Linked DNA regions of Homo sapiens: region 1 is linked to region 2. A link means that fine-mapping ties the variant in region 2 to the expression of a gene that starts in the linked region. Tissue or cell type: whole blood. Region 2 holds a variant in brackets; the other region holds the start of a gene. All regions are shown on one strand. Distances are from middle to middle.

Evidence for each region. PIP is the estimated chance that this variant, and not a neighbour inherited with it, causes the effect.
Region 1: SCRN1 starts here. The variant in region 2 is fine-mapped to the expression of SCRN1 in whole blood (INTERVAL, PIP 0.97).

Annotation. Positions count from the first base shown.
Region 1 is chr7:29,988,511-29,991,132 of GRCh38, forward strand. It overlaps SCRN1 (secernin 1), which reads right to left and starts at 1,291. Exons shown (of 8, transcript NM_014766.5): 1 at 1,132-1,291. It overlaps FKBP14-AS1 (FKBP14 antisense RNA 1), which reads left to right and starts at 146. Exons shown (of 3, transcript NR_187577.1): 1 at 146-283. RefSeq lists silencers at 518-637, 728-997, 1,008-1,057, 1,078-1,417.
Region 2 is chr7:29,919,545-29,922,301 of GRCh38, forward strand. SCRN1 (secernin 1) reads right to left here. Exons shown (of 8, transcript NM_014766.5): 8 at 565-2,757. Among named protein-coding and RNA genes, the nearest start is that of FKBP14-AS1, 68 kb to the right of the region's middle. The variant C/A (reference allele first, on the strand shown) is at 1,051.

The DNA of each region.
Region 1 (2,622 bases), 69 kb after region 2:
GTCAGGGGGCAGCTGATGGTTGTGGTCTGTGCTGCTTCCGCCTGGCCTATTTTTCATGCTGCCATTTTGAATTAGCATAGGTTTCCTCCGCAACTGATGCATCTTCTAACCAGGCTGGGAACACAACACGCGCACACGCGCACACACACACGCACGCACCCACCCCACCCGGCTGCCGGACGCAAGCGTAAGTCAAGGACTTGCATGCTAGAATCAGACAGAAAATCCAGAAAAGCCACGTTATTTAACAGAACCCTACAAGGTCAGCTTTGAGTCAAAGCAGGTAACAGTTTCCTTCGATGTTTTCATGGACATTTTTATTCCCAAATCCGAGTTCTCGCCAATTCTCTAAAGTTCAAGCGCCCCTCCTGCTTTGCAGACCACATTTCTCTCGGCCCTCGCGAGTGAGGTCGCCAAATACTCGACGCCTCAAGAGCGAGCCGAGGAGGCAGAGGCCGACCAAGCCGGCCTCTCGGCAGCCCCGCCCGGCGCCCCGCGGAGAACGCCCGGGTGCGGCTCGAGGGAAGTTGTGTCAAGTCCCACGCGCGGCCCGCGGAGAACCCAGGGGCGGCCCGCGCGCGTCGGCCTAGCGGGGAGGGCTGCTCCGGGACACGGTGCGGCGGCCGCGGGCGAGTTGGACGCGCTGGCAGAGCCGGGCCGAAGGCGGCGGGCGTCTCCGGGCAGCCATGTTCGCGGCGCCCGCCCGCGCAGCAGGTACGGCACCTCGGGGAAGGTGCCCGGCTCGCCCCAGACCCCAGGGTGGCGAGGCCAGGGGCCCACAGGCACATCCCAGTGGGCAGCAGGTTGGCTGCCAGGAAAAGGAAACCCAGGAAGAGCAGCGCGGGGAACCCGGCTGCGGTGCGGGAGCCCGGGGCCGGCATCCCTCCACTGCACCCCCGCAGTCCCCGAGCCGAGTCACCCCGGCTTCAGGCCGAGGCCACCTCTCCTCTGACCGCCCCCAGGCTCCCAGCCCGCCCGGGCCAGCACCGGGAATCGGCCTGGGGTAACGCTACCCGCGGGTTCGGAGGGACAGCGGGAGGAGATGAAACGCAGGAGGTGGCGATGGCGGGTGGGGTGAAACCGCCGGGAAAGCAGCGCTGCAAACGCCCTGCGCTCCCAGACGCGGCTCACCTGGGGCGGCGGGCTCCGGGCTCCGCTCTCCGCTCTGCGGTGCTGAGGCTGCGGCCGCCGAGGGTGCGGGTGCTGCCGGGTCCGGATTACTGCGGCGACCTCGGGGGCTGCAGCTGCAGTGGCGGAGGCGGCCGCCGGGCGCTTCCCCCTACCCAGACTCCCGGCGCTGGGGCCCGCCGCCCCCCGCAGCAGCTGGCCCGACTCACGTGACCGCGGGCCCACCCTCCGCCTCCCCCACCCCGGCCCCCGGGGCCCCGCCGCACCCCGCGCGTCTGGCTGCACGGGCCGCGGCGCTGCTCACCGTCGAGTAGGGAGGGGGCCTGGGAGCTGGAGGAGCGGCCGAGAGGGCGTATCTCGCCGCAGAAAGTGGCCCCCTCTTTGCTAGATTTTTATTTCTTGGTTGTGGCTCTCAAAAGGGAAAACCCGGGCTTCAAGGAGCCAGGCCCAGCATCCTTTTGGCGCCTCTTCCCGACGTTTGGTTGCTACGTCCGGGCCTCGGCGCCCACACAAGATTTCCCCGGAGAGAAATGTGTCCTGTACCTTGTTGACTCGCACGTCCAAGTCGAGTCCCTGGTTTTAAAAGTGCCGTCCTGTACCATGTTGGTAAGCCAGACCCTGTCCCAGGTACTTGGACATTGTGGCCTAGAGAGGTTAAGTAACTTGCCCAAGGTCACACAGCACGTAACTAAGCCAAGATTCCATATCTGGGTTAATAAAGTTATGTACAGGGACTTGTGTGTTGTGTGTCTGTGTGTGTGTGTGTGTGTGTGTGTTGATGCCAGCGTCAACTCCATCTTTTATAAGTAAATAAGAAAAGACTATCTCAAAAGATATGAAGACGTAATTCAGAGGAAAATAAATGCAATTCTATCCTGGCACACGAAAAGATATTCAGGCTCACTTAACTGCAAATCAAATATGTGGGGTAGCATCTTCCACCAGCCAGATTAACAAAAATCAAAACATTTTGAGTCTTGCTTTGTCGCCCAGTCTGGAATGCAGTGGCAGGATCTCGGCTCACTGCAAACTCCGCCTCCTGCCTCCCGCCTCCCGCCTCCCGCCTCCCGGGTTCAAGCGATTCTCGTGCCTCAGCCTCCCAAGTGGCTGAGACTACAGACCCACGCCACCAGCCTCGCTAATTTTTTTTGATTTTTAGTAGAGATGGGGTTTCACCATGTTGCCCAGGCCGGTCTCAAACTCCTGAGCTTAGGCAATCCGCCTGCCTCTACTATCCAGCTTCCTTTAAAAAGGAGAATGATCTTTATTTGCTAATACAAAACTATTTCCAACCTATACTAACTAAAGAAAAATAAAAAGCTAGGTGCAGAACGTTGTGTGTGTTATTTGTGGGAAGAAAATATATATGTATGTCTGTACTTATTTTTGTAAATGCACAGAGTATCTTTGGAAGAGTACGTAAGAACCTGTAATAGATGCCACCAGGGAGCAGAACTGGGAGACTGGGTGCTGGGGAGAGAAGGAGACTTTTTT
Region 2 (2,757 bases):
GGATAGAACACATTTTGTTTCTCCATTCTTCCATCTGTGGATATTTGAGTTGCTTCCAGATTTTAGCACTGTGAATAGTGCTACTATGAACATGGGTGTGCAACCTCTCTTCCAGACCCTACTTTCAATTCTTTTGTGTATACCCAGAAGTGGGATTGCCCGATTATACAGCAGTTCTGTTTTTCATTTTTTGAGCAACTCCATACTGTTTCCCACAATGGATGCACTGTTTTACATTCCCACCAACAGTACATAAGGGTTCCAATTTCTCCACATCCTCACCCACATTTGTTATTTTCTGGTTGTGGTTTTTTGTTGTTGTTGTTGTTTTTGTTTTCAATAGTAGCTATCCTGACGGGTGTGAGGTGATATTTCGTTGTGGTTTTATATTTAAAGACTGAATTTATCCACAGAACATTACATGATGCAAGAAACTGCTGAACTGACTGTTTTCTAAAGATTCTAGCCAGAAAAATATATCCATTCTCATACATTTTCTATATTGCGACTGAGGCCCACGTTTATTCACGAGACACAAAACAGAAGAGGCCACTCCACTGGATGTTAATTTCAGTTTTTTTTATTGTATGCTTGATGCATTTAGAGACAATTCCAAGGGCAAGCACTGGATAGGGATATTATCTGCTTTGTAGATATTTGTACAAAAGACTGTTAAGACTACATGGCCAGTTCCCACTGCAGGAAACAGAATGATTTTCTTTTTTTTTTATTATTATTCCCTGCCAATAGCATTTTCCATCTAACACATTTAAATTCTCACAGCATAATTGCAAACATGTACATATTGGTTCCCACGAGAAATCTGCAGGTGACATTTCGGGATGTTTGGAGTCAATCAGATAAAGCACATTATGACAGAAACCATAAGAGGGGAGCTGGGACCTGGGACTGTGCAGAATGAAAAGCCACGGCTACGGGAAGCATAAGCTTGTGCTGCAACGGCATGTGCACATGACCTGCTGCTCCTGGCCCTCTACGAAGCATGCCCAGCAAGGGAACCTCCTCCGTCCCTCCTCCACGTGCTTCCTT[C/A]CTAAGGCTGAGAGCTCAACTGAAGACCTTCCCCAATAAATGACAGATGGCTCTTCAGTCAGGAATGCAGTTAGTGGTTTCATGACAGACACACTGGTCCCACCCGGCTTCCCTGCTGAACCACCCAGTACTGAATAACACCTGTACCAATGTGGGATGACATCAGCTAGGAAGCAAAGTAATTTGCCTGGTTGATGATTATTTTTTATACCTAATGATTCACCCAATAGTAAAGGAACCCCACAGCTAAGGTCTAACAGGCATATACCTGCTCTGTTAGTTTATAAGAAAGACTCGTTCTAATAACACCAGGTCTTATATTATTGAGCACTAAGGAACCTCCATAATTTCGATTATATTCTACCTAAAATTTCAAAGCACCTCCAAGAATGAAAGGGTACTATTTCTGCTTTGCTAATTTACTCCTGCCAGAGCTTCTGTCCTTGAATATGAGGGCTATCTTCACCTATAGTAAATCCCATCTATTAGACAAGACTAGCTAGCTTATGTTTGGTTATGGGGCAAGGGAGTGGGGGAGAGATTCTGTCCTTTCTGGCTATGGCTTCTTTCTGCACAAGCATGCTCAGCCCCCACCCCAGTCTGAAAAGATACACAAAGGGTTTCCTAGGAAGCTACTTATACACTATGACCCTTAAACATAATTTTTGTATTTCATCTTGAATATTCATGTTCCCTATACTGCCTTCAGAAAAGCAATCCCTGGTCCACAAATTATTCATGTAACAAGCATTTTTCAAAAGCAAAATCTGTTAGGAACATTTAAAAATGAACATTCCTCACTATAACAGCCTGCTCAAAACCCAACAACCTATTTCCAGCTGTTAATATAAGTACATAAAGTCACTAAAAGTAAGCGCAGCCACATCAGCAGATTCTCTGCTCTCTTGTCGTCTTTCTCCACCCATCCCAATGCACAACTGTCAACTGTGCTTATAGACCACCTCCAGACCTGATGGGAGCTGCCACACCCCTTTTAACTTTTGCCAGGCTGTACCATGCCCTCTAGTGGTAGGACTAGGACATCACAATTGTGGTGCAGAGTATTAGCCAAGACAGCTCTCAATTAGGGTTGCCTTCTTTAAGATGCTTGACCAAGGTCAATGTACCCTAACAGAAGTAGCCATTGTGTTTCCCAATGGGTAATGACATAAAGCGGGTAGGGTTATCCATGGCCTTTGTTTGGCCCATAGAAATGAAAGGAGGCTTCTGTGTAATTAATTCTTACTAGACTTCTTTTGATCAAATCCTGAATCACCTTGGTTATCTCAGACATGTCAGGTCTGATGAGACATTTCATAGTAGGCGAAGGTGAAATCACTCAGTGAGATTTTAGAGCAGCTTTCTGTATCATCTTGCTTTACATAGCCACTTGGAACATGGACTTGGGAGGGGAGAGTTACCTACGTCATCCTCGAACCTCACTTTCCCCCCCCCTTAACAGTGATAGAAAGACACTTTTAGAATAGCCGCCCCACCTAAAAGGACACTCTAAATTCACCAACAGTGAAAGCCCAGGCCAAACCTGCGTGAAGCTCTTAGCAGCTACAGGCCACCATTATTGGTTGCCATTAACTCTGTCAGCTGAAATCGTCTTCCCATCACCCACAATGTGTGGTTAATGATTTTATATACAGAGTTTACAAAACTGCTGACTAAAAAGCTCATGGCACTCCTATACTCACGCTC